3 linked regions of the Homo sapiens genome follow. The protein of the gene in region 3 purifies or fractionates together with the protein of the main gene of each other region. This does not show direct contact. Each region holds a gene or a part of one and is shown on either strand. Other genes may lie near its edges.

The links.
Region 1: the proteins of CDH17 (region 3) and PCDH18 purify together in Homo sapiens (affinity purification with mass spectrometry; one large-scale study listed by BioGRID and IntAct). This does not show direct contact.
Region 2: the proteins of CDH17 (region 3) and TMTC4 purify together in Homo sapiens (affinity purification with mass spectrometry; one large-scale study listed by BioGRID and IntAct). This does not show direct contact.

What each region holds. Positions count from the first base shown.
Region 1 is NC_000004.12:137,530,348-137,534,100, reverse strand, and holds the start of PCDH18 (protocadherin-18 isoform 1 precursor), read left to right. Parts: upstream 1-1,606; 5' UTR 1,607-2,012; coding exon 2,013-3,753. UniProt on the Homo sapiens protein: Potential calcium-dependent cell-adhesion protein.
Region 2 is NC_000013.11:100,664,759-100,668,411, reverse strand, and holds part of TMTC4 (protein O-mannosyl-transferase TMTC4), read left to right. Parts: intron 1-3,653. UniProt on the Homo sapiens protein: Transfers mannosyl residues to the hydroxyl group of serine or threonine residues.
Region 3 is NC_000008.11:94,198,462-94,202,114, reverse strand, and holds part of CDH17 (cadherin-17 isoform 1 precursor), read left to right. Parts: intron 1-3,653. UniProt on the Homo sapiens protein: Cadherins are calcium-dependent cell adhesion proteins. They preferentially interact with themselves in a homophilic manner in connecting cells; cadherins may thus contribute to the sorting of heterogeneous cell types.

The sequences.
Region 1 (3,753 bases), on a different chromosome or scaffold from region 3:
CTATTCTGCACAATTTGCCACACAGCACTGATTTCAGGAGGGGGAAAAAAAGACAATGGCTTATAAAATGCTTTTGAATGCCTAAAAAGAAGGAGAATTCACGCTGAGACTCCTCTGCTTTCTTTTTTGGAAAGAGCCTTCTTAGTGACTTTAGCTGAGCTCTGCTGAGAGTAAGCAAAGTGGAAAAATCAGAAAATTACTTTTTTTATATGTTTCTGGGGGGCAAAATAGACAGTGAGAAAAAATAAATGGAAAAAAGTGACAATGACATTCTGTGAAACAGCAAATATGCAAGCGGATGAAGACAGCTGAGGAATAAGGAAAAAGGTATGAAAAAAAGCAGCAAAAATGGAGCCACGATGATAAACTTAAAAGGAATTGCAGAGCAGAAAGAACATCATAAATAATCATATTTTCAAATAAGAATACCGTATCAGTTTCTGTGACCTGGATAGAGCACAAGCCTCCCATGATATTTCCTAGCATTTTGATGCATACAAAATGCAATTTTCAGCTCAGGCATTTGATTTGTCAGTGTAAACAACCTTTGGGGTTTTTAAAATACATATCTGAAGTGTTTTCATAAATAATGCATATATTATAAAAATTTGACTTGTAAACTATTGAGTCCATGTCCCCCCTGTATTCACTGCAAAGACTAGCCATGTATAGATAGTGCCTTTTGGTAGAAATTGGCATGCTAAAGCTTGCAGTGTCTTTTACCCAAGATAAATAGGATTTTTTTGAAGTACAGGACAAAGAAATATTACAAACAATTTTGCCCAAACTCAAGGAAAGAAATCATACAAGGTAGAACTATATTGTTAATTAGTTCCAAATTCTGAGGTGTTCCCTTAAGTCTTGCTAATTAAGAGAAATGAAGAGTGCAAGATAGCCCTTTTTTTATCTTCAAAGAATAAAGATGAAAGAAAACAGAAAATGAAACCTCTTTACTTGCTCCGTTCTTTAAAAACAGAGCCCCAAGAAAATCTGCTTGTGCTCCTGGAAGGAGAAAGGCCCAAGTATTTACAGAGGGAGTGGGGAAGGAGGTGGTCTGAGAAGCATAATTAGAAGCAAGTTTTCAAATTGTATTAAATTCCTCCACCAACAAAACGCACTTAGAGGTATTTTAAGTTAAACTAGCACTTAAGGACTATGAAAAGCAAGATGATTACATGTCTGTGGCAGAAGAAAGGGCAATTAAGAAAACAAGAAGAATTTAACGTGCCATATAAATAAAGGCGACCAGAAGTTGATTTAAAGTTTTTCTTCTGTAATTTGTCTCCCCTTTGTCATGGCACGCTCAGAGAAAGTGAATGCAGTAGATTGAAAGGCGGAGGGGGAGTGGGGAGGAAGAAGGAAGGAACAGGGAAGGACTGGCTCCCATCTCCTCCCCCAGCCCCCACCAGCCCATCTCCCCTTCTCTCCCTCGCGCACCCACCCCCGCCTTCCTCCTTCTCCGTCTCTTTCTCTCTCCCACCCTCCACTCTCGCCCTCCCTCCTTGGGTGACTCCATCAGCTTTTGATTTGGAAGCACGCTGATTGGCTGGAAGCGATTCAACACACGCTGGGCAAGAGCTTTGTCTGAGTTGAAGTGAAGTTGTACAGATTTTAGACTGGAGTCAGCAATCACGGGTGTTTAGTCTGCAGCCGAGCAGCTAAAGGGAGAAAGAATCGCTCAGGAAAGACACACTGCAGACTCCACCGGCACCCTGCAATAGATGGATTCCGACTACACAAGGGAGAAAACGCGGAGGTGACACTCTCCTGCCTGGAAAGAGGACGAACGACCAAACAAACGCAAGGACTGGACTCCATGCCGAAGGTATCTGGAAGTCGTGACACGGTGTGTATAAAACAAAAGTTTGCGAGCTGTTAATTGCTGTGCTGTGTTATTAAGAGACGCTTTCAAGTTTCAAGTACCAAATGTAGCTTTACGTTGCCAAAGGAAGTTGAGGCAATTGCTTTGCTGTTTTAACTTGCTCTGTGAGGGAAATCTCATAAACTGACCAATGCACCAAATGAATGCTAAAATGCACTTTAGGTTTGTTTTTGCACTTCTGATAGTATCTTTCAACCACGATGTACTGGGCAAGAATTTGAAATACAGGATTTATGAGGAACAGAGGGTTGGATCAGTAATTGCAAGACTATCAGAGGATGTGGCTGATGTTTTATTGAAGCTTCCTAATCCTTCTACTGTTCGATTTCGAGCCATGCAGAGGGGAAATTCTCCTCTACTTGTAGTAAACGAGGATAATGGGGAAATCAGCATAGGGGCTACAATTGACCGTGAACAACTGTGCCAGAAAAACTTGAACTGTTCCATAGAGTTTGATGTGATCACTCTACCCACAGAGCATCTGCAGCTTTTCCATATTGAAGTTGAAGTGCTGGATATTAATGACAATTCTCCCCAGTTTTCAAGATCTCTCATACCTATTGAGATATCTGAGAGTGCAGCAGTTGGGACTCGCATTCCCCTGGACAGTGCATTTGATCCAGATGTTGGGGAAAATTCCCTCCACACATACTCGCTCTCTGCCAATGATTTTTTTAATATCGAGGTTCGGACCAGGACTGATGGAGCCAAGTATGCAGAACTCATAGTGGTCAGAGAGTTAGATCGGGAGCTGAAGTCAAGCTACGAGCTTCAGCTCACTGCCTCAGACATGGGAGTACCTCAGAGGTCTGGCTCATCCATACTAAAAATAAGCATTTCAGACTCCAATGACAACAGCCCTGCTTTTGAGCAGCAATCTTATATAATACAACTCTTAGAAAACTCCCCGGTTGGCACTTTGCTCTTAGATCTGAATGCCACGGATCCAGATGAGGGCGCTAATGGGAAAATTGTATATTCCTTCAGCAGTCATGTGTCTCCCAAAATTATGGAGACTTTTAAAATTGATTCTGAAAGAGGACATTTGACTCTTTTCAAGCAAGTGGATTATGAAATCACCAAATCCTATGAGATTGATGTTCAGGCTCAAGATTTGGGTCCAAATTCAATCCCAGCCCATTGCAAAATTATAATTAAGGTTGTGGATGTTAATGACAATAAACCTGAAATTAACATCAACCTCATGTCCCCTGGAAAAGAAGAAATATCTTATATTTTTGAAGGGGATCCTATTGATACATTTGTTGCTTTGGTCAGAGTTCAGGACAAGGATTCTGGGCTGAATGGAGAAATAGTTTGTAAGCTTCATGGACATGGTCACTTTAAACTTCAGAAGACATATGAAAACAATTATTTAATCTTAACTAATGCCACACTGGATAGAGAAAAGAGATCTGAGTATAGTTTGACTGTAATCGCTGAGGACAGGGGGACACCCAGTCTCTCTACAGTGAAACATTTTACAGTTCAAATCAATGATATCAATGACAATCCACCCCACTTCCAGAGAAGCCGATATGAATTTGTAATTTCAGAAAATAACTCACCAGGGGCATATATCACCACTGTTACAGCCACAGATCCTGATCTTGGAGAAAATGGGCAAGTGACATACACCATCTTGGAGAGTTTTATTCTAGGAAGTTCCATAACTACATATGTAACCATTGACCCATCTAATGGAGCCATCTATGCCCTCAGAATCTTTGATCATGAAGAAGTGAGTCAGATCACTTTTGTGGTAGAAGCAAGAGATGGAGGAAGCCCGAAGCAACTGGTAAGCAATACCACAGTTGTGCTCACCATCATTGACGAAAATGACAACGTTCCTGTGGTTATAGGGCCTGCAT
Region 2 (3,653 bases), on a different chromosome or scaffold from region 3:
TGCCTTTCTTATTGCTGGCACCAAGGTTCTGAACCCCTGCCTCAGCTCAGGCACTCCCCTCAAGAGCTCCAGTCCACATATGGATCAAAGAGGCCGTTATTCTAAGATTACAAGGCAAGGGCATTGCAGGGTGTTGCAGACTTAGTATTCCAGATTTTGCAAAACATTTCCACAGTTGTTCAAAAAAAAAAAAAACCCATCACGCATTTGCTGCAGTGATGGACGGGTGTGATCACCTGCCAGAAGGTGCATCTTCAGCAGCAGGCAGGGAGCTGGCTGCCGCTTTGTCCTTCTCCGAGACTGTCGGGACAGCCTGCTGACAGCTGCTGGGGCAGGAGGAATGTGCTGCCCATGGGCGCTGCAGTTCCTGCTTGTTTCGTGTTTGGAGATTCGGTGTTGCTGAACTTGCAGAATCCCAGTCAATTTTGCTTACCAGTGGTTGCTATGTATCAGTGCAGGAAAAATGGTAATCTTTTTCCACTCCCTACCCGGAGTTAGGGCAGAAGAAAGAGGTTTGTGGGAAAAGATGAAAAAGATTCAAGCAGGCTAAAAACCAGAGCAAGAAATGCAGAGGCAGGCAAGGCCCAGAGGAGAAAGAACTCGGAAATGGCACAAGTTAGAGCCTCTCAACAATCTGTTATTCAGAAGATATTTTATGTGTGTTCCTTAGCCAGTGAAGAAGACTTAGAGGAATATACACATTTAGCTCCCTACTAGATATAATTAGAGCAACTCTTTGTAACACTGTTGAATGCTCTTAAAAATGTGAAGTTATGGATTCTACCAAATAAGTATAAAGTCATTTTCATACTGAAAATGTTGAGAAGAACTCTCTATATGACAAGCATGTATTGTATGGGGGCAACATGACTGATTTGCATATATTTTATTTGTGATATAATATTGCAGTTGATCTCCATTTTGAGGGCACACACTAGATCATTTTTAATGTTTTAATGGGTTTTCGTTGTTGTTGTTGTTTTGAGACAGAGTCTCGTTCTGTTGCCCAGGCTGGAGCACAGTGTCACGATTTTGGCTCACTACAACCTCTGCCTCCGGGGTTCAAGCAATTCTACTGCCTCAGCCTCCCAAGTAGCTGGGACTACAGGCATCACATGCCTGGCTAATTTTTGTATTTTTTAGTAGGGATGGGGTTTCACCATGTTGGCCAGGCTGGTCTTGAACTCCTGACCTCAGATGATCTGCCTACTTTGGCCTCCCAAAGTTCTGGATTACAGGTGTGAGCCACCACACCCGGCCAATATTTATTTTTAATTCAAGTTCTTCATTTGTAATTTTCCTCAGATTCACTCAGCAGTTACTGTAGATGATTCTGTTTCAGTTCTTTTTTAAACCATGCTTAAAAGAACTAAGTAACTCTACAGACCTTTTATGTCAAACTGGTGGCTTTTTCATGAGACAGGGACAAGGTGTTACTCTGTTGCCCAGGCTGGAGTGCAGTGGTGCAGTCATAGTTCACTGCAGCCTCCGATGCCTGGGCTCAAGCCATCCTCCCATCTTAGCCTCCCGAGTAGCTAAGATTACAGTCATGCGCCACCACTCCCAGCTGACTTTTAAAATTTTTTTGTAGAGACAGAGTCTCACTGTGTTGCCTGGTTGATCTCACCTGGCCTGAAGCGATGCTCCCACCTTGGCCTCCCAAAGTGCTGGGATAGCAAGCGCAAGCCACCATGCCCAGCACGGATTGGTGGCTTAATGGCCACAGAACTGCTTTTCTCAGAAAGCTACAGTTTTATTATTTAAATTCCATTATTCATTTTGGTGAGAATATCTTGACTCTTCCACTTGTGTAAAGCAGAAGACATATAAAGTGTTAATTCAGAAACCATGTTGAAAAATGTTGGTCAGCCAGGAAGAAGAAAAACACGAGCCGTGTTGTATGTGGAGGCCCCGGTGTCTGGGTGTAATTCTCGTTCCTTCTGTGAGGTGAGGCAGATGAAGCCATTTCGTGGTTCTGCTGAGCATGGTCTTGGCAGTGTTTTTGGGAGCATCACACTGTGCCCCTTTTGTTAACTTGCTAGCCCTCCCTTTTTCTTTTCCTGGTTAATGAAAGGCACTCCTCCGTTCATTGGCACTGTGCCTACAGTAATGTGAAACAGGCTGTTACTGGATTTTAGTGATGTTAGAGACTGTTTTCCAGATGCTTCCTTGCAGTGTGGAGTTGCCTTTTTTGTTCCTTGAGATGATGATCTTCTTTGAGACAGTGGAGTTAGGGGGAATTTTAGACACAATACATCTTTTCCATAAATCATTATGAGGAAGAATTGACCTTTCTTTCTGTAGCACACCCTGCTGTGGAGGCTCCACTTAATCAAATATTTAGAACCTCGTTGGTGTTCATTTCCTGTTCAAAGGGAGGAAAAGATCCTCTGCCGAAGCCCTTCACAGCTGACCGGGTACTTCTGTAAGAGTGTAGAAGAAGGTAGGCTTCCAGGCTTGTCACTGAGTCAACGAAGGGAGCAGGTGCCTCACATGACCTTCACAGAATCTCTAACCTGCTCTTGGGGAGTGGTCAGTGTGCTCCTGGCTTCTGAAGCCGATGCCCATGGAAGCAAATGTCACCCTTAACAGTGGACATCAGTGACCAGCTTTGCATCTGTCACCTCTTTTCAAGCCTTTCCCTTTGAGTCAGCAAGCACTTAAGTCGCAGGTGCTAAGTCGCATGGTGGCTGTGGACCTTTGTTGCTCTTTGGGGCCACCCATCATTTGACCCATTTCTGTTTGGGGCATTCTTAGGTGCTCAGAAGATGATTTGATTAGGGAGCTGGTACAGACGGGCTGTCCCATCAGGTGCGCCCACCTGTTGGAATCAGGAACTGGTCACGCGAGGTGGGGGCCCAGAGGCAGCCAGGCAGTCTCTGCCAGGTGCCCGGCGCATGATTTGTGGTTTTGCTCCTGCCACGTGGCCCTGCCCTGGCTTTCCAGGCCACAGGAGGGTCTGTGAGCTGCAAACTCCCCTTTGAAGAATTCCCTTTTTGTTTAAATTAATCAGAGTTTGGTTACTGCGATGAAGAATCTTGATGGACAACCCGGGGAAGTGATCAGCATGTTGTAATTTCTAGTCCCTAAAACACTCCTGTTTAATTATGCTCTAAAGAGAAAGTTAATCTGTCATTTTTCTTACTTACTCCACCACAGTGCCTTGTTTGCCTCTCTTCTCATTAGACACAATTTAAGCCATCTACTTTCATCTTTTGAATGTAAAACAATGCATTTTTAAACATCTGTAGTATAGTACCAAATTATCTCAGCAGTAAGAGCGGTACAGTGTTTTTTTTAATATTTAGTGACTTTTGTCTGGAAAAATTAAGGTTTTTTTTCTGATTTCATAGTCTGCTTAGCTCATGATCAAAAATGGAAACTTAAAAAAATATGTTTATCCATACTTAACTGGGACATTTTGGTAAGTTACCTTATTTAATAGATGTGAGAGGTTAATAGTGATCTTATTTAGCTGTGTGGTCCACTTATTTGACACGTATTAAGCACCTTCTGTATACAGCCAGCAAACCCAGATGTGGCCCAGTCCTCATGGAGCCCAGTCTAGTGGCACAGAAAAATAGTCATGTGACTGTAAGTTGCCAGGGTGCCACACATTGCTTGACAGGGTGAGATGTCCAGAGGCCTATGGA
Region 3 (3,653 bases):
TTGTGGAAGCCTAGTCAGTAGGAGGGTGAGATCTTTGACAGAAAAAGAGAAATGTAAGACTACAAAGCAGTGCAAGGCTGATCAGAAAACCATGGACTGGCAAATTTTACCAAAACTCAAAGCTATTCCTCAGCTCCAGGGCTACCTGCAATCTGTGTGTGCCCTGGTGAATGGAATTTATCCTCACAAATTGGTGTTCTAAATTTCTTAAGAAGAACCTAATTATGTAACTAAAAAAAAATAAATGAATGCCGTTAATCCCCTTGGGAGCTTGGAGCCTGGTGGGAGAATCAAGGAAGCCTTGGGTGGGCTGCTGGGATGCGGGGGGTCCCTAGGTGTCTAATGACTGAGCAGAGCCCCCTGTGAGGCCACCTCTGTCCTGGGACAGCAGCACAGGCTAAACAAAAGTTCCATGGGGTCTTCATTTGCTAGGGCTGCCTTAACAAAATACCACAGAACGGGAGGCTTAAACAGCAGATATTTACCATCTCAGTTCTGGTGACCAGAAGTCCAAAATCAAGAGGGCAGTAGGGTTGGTTCCTCCTGAGAGCTGTGAAGGAAGGATCTTCTGTGCACCTCTCTCCTTGGCTTGTAGATGGCTGTCTGTACATTCACACAGTGTTCTTTCTTTGTGGATGAGCCTGTCTCCAAATCTCTTCTTAGAAGGACATCAGTCATTGTGGATTAGAGCCCACTCTAACAACCTCATTTTAACTTCGTTACCTCTGTAAAGACTCCAAATAAAGTCACATTCTGAGGTGCTTGGAAGTTAGGACTCCAACATATGCTTTTTGAGGGGGAGGGAGACACAATTCTACCCATAGCATTTGGATTGATTTAAAAAAGGGAAGATTCCTAAGGTGAAGCACAGAAATGAGGAGAAATAGTGAGACACAGAGATACATTTGCAGTAGAAACAAAACTTCCCAGACCAAGGCAGCCTTTTCCTCCAGGCAGGTCGGGGCAGGTCATGTCAGCATCTGAAAAAAAGAGCAGCTGCAAAGTAGGGGGAAAAAACCTTTTCAACATTTTGGAAAGATCTGTAGTGGATTAAATGATACTTGGTGTCTCATCATCAGGATATTTGTGTTTCAGAGGGAGTGAAAATTAGCCTGGCATTGTGACCTTGGGCAAGTCTCTTAATTTCTGTGGTCTTCATCGTTTGATTTTTCATTTCATCTTTAAGAGGTATATTATAATAGCATCTGCTCCATAGAGTTGTTCTGAGAAATCAGCAAGATAGTTTTTCACCACCAAGTCTTATCGGTGCATGCAGCAAATTGTTTTCAGTCAATGTTTGCTGCCTTTGTCGTTATCCGGGCTGGATGCAGATCCAGGCCGCGGCGGGATTCCCATGTCTTCTGTTGTGTGGTAGATTAAAATGAGGCACTGTTCCTGCAGAGCAAGCCCAGCAGCCCTGGTTCCCGTCTGCAAGCAGGTGCCCTGGTCTACTGTTGAGCAAGTGGTGGTCATGGTGGTGCCCATTGGGTGAGGGGCAGCCACAGTTTGGGAACCGAGGCCTTCTTTTCAAAACTCCTTTTTTTGTAAAAAAAAAAAAAAAAAAAAAAAAAAAAAAACAAAAGATAATAATAATAACCCTCTGATCTATGTTGCAAAGGGTGTGCTTGGTCTCTCAAATAATTGCTGTAGTAACTGTCTGAATTTAGTCCTTGTATCTGAGGGAAATCCTGACAAACGGCAAAAATTCCACGCAGACGGTTGGCCAATTATTACAGGTAGTTCAGATAAAATGCCACAGAATCCTCTGGAAATCTATTTCAATTCTTTTCCAAGTAGTGTTTTTGAGGAAACCTAGGTGTCTGGCTTGGTGGTTTCGGGCAATTTCAGTGATGAAGGATGGCTTCCCATCAGCACCATTGCGACCCAGGGTACCCCACACTTGAATGGTATTGTGTCCATGGAAGGAGGAAGTGTAGGTGGGACCTGTTTGAGAGACCAAAGTCCTCTTTTGACATAATCCTAGCACTAGTGTAGTTTGCCTTGAATCATTCGGGTAAAGGCTTTGCCTTGCTGCCTCATTTGGCTGTGAGGATGTTCCTGTGTAGGCTGTTTTTAGAATATTTTCATTAGTGGGCCACCAAAAGTTGGGAATTGTGAAGAGAAATGTCCTGTTGGACAATGTTTACAGTTTTGACTAAGCAAACGTGAGTGGCAAAATGAATTTTTGGCCAACAGTATTCCAAATATTAACTCGCTGAATCTCTTAACTCTCGAAGGTAGGTATTATTATTATTATCCCTGCTTTATAGATGAGTAGATAGGGCCACGAGTCAGCCGGTGGAGGAGTTAAGACCCAAGCCAGCCAGTCTAACTCCTGGGTCTATGCTCCTAACAACCGCATGGTGTGGTAGATTTGTCTTCAAATAAATCATGGCACCCTACGTGTGGCAATGGAAAGCAGTGACTTCTACTTCCCACTGGAAACCCTCGGTGAGGGGCAGGCCTAAATGTAAATGACAAAATAAAGGATAAGTACATTTCTCCTTCTACTTCCTAGGTTCCATTGAAACATCCCAGACAGTGATCTCTCTGAGCATCTGACCAAAATAAGGCATTCCTTTTATTTTTATTTGCTTTTCTATCATTTAACTTGTGTTTTTCTGGAAGACTGAAGGTGTTAAAAAAAAAAAAATTAGTTCAAGAAGAGATGATCTAGTTCGACCAGTTCTGGGTTATTTACTGAGCAGAAATCTGTTAGTGTATTCAAAGGAGAAACAACTCTTTTCATCAACAATAAAAATGTATTACACAATAAAGCTTTGAATGTTGAATGAGTTTCCTTTAATATATCATGTTTATTGAAAGCTCTTACAGGTGAGAACAAATTAATAAGATATCCATGTTAGGTAATCATAAATGTTTTAGAATTTACCCAACATCTGATGATGGCTTGATATATGCAAGGGATAGTATGAAGAGACCTGATAAGTTAAAAATAAGGCCTCTGCCCTTAAGGATTTTATTTAATAGTGGCAGTAATGCTAACAGACAAATGATAAAAAAAAAAAAATATATATATATATATATATATATATATATATATATATATATATATCAATCAGAACTGGCTCTGAGAGGAAGAGACTGGCTGGAAATCAAGGAAGATTTCATGAAGGAAGTAGGGTTTAGGTCCTAGCTCCATGAAGATAGAACCTGTACCCCTTATTTTGGTACCCCAGTTCTTGGCACGGTATCTGGGACATACTAGAAGTGGTGTAGTTCATTGCTATTTAAATAATTAAGTTGAACTTAGATGGTAAGATGTGAGAAGCAGAAATGAGGAAACATCTCCATCCAACCTCATTAAGCAAATATCCATTGTCCATTTTCTCTGGGCCAGGCCTTGTGCCAGGCAGGGAGAGCAGCAGGGGTGAGAGCTTGGCTGCCAGAGAGCTCAGGGTGCAAAGTCCATCTGGGTGGAGGTGTGACTGGGTGTGGGAAGGGAGTGGCAGATAAGGCTGGAAGAGTTGGGAGCAGCATTTGAAAGATCTTGAATGCTGAGGAGTTTAAGGAGAAAGATCTCCCAATGTGTCATTATTGCCTATATTTTTACTTGTATTAAGCAAATACAGGTTGATAGCTGACCGTGTACATTTTGCTAATATTACAGAAAACTAGTTTGTTAGACTTAA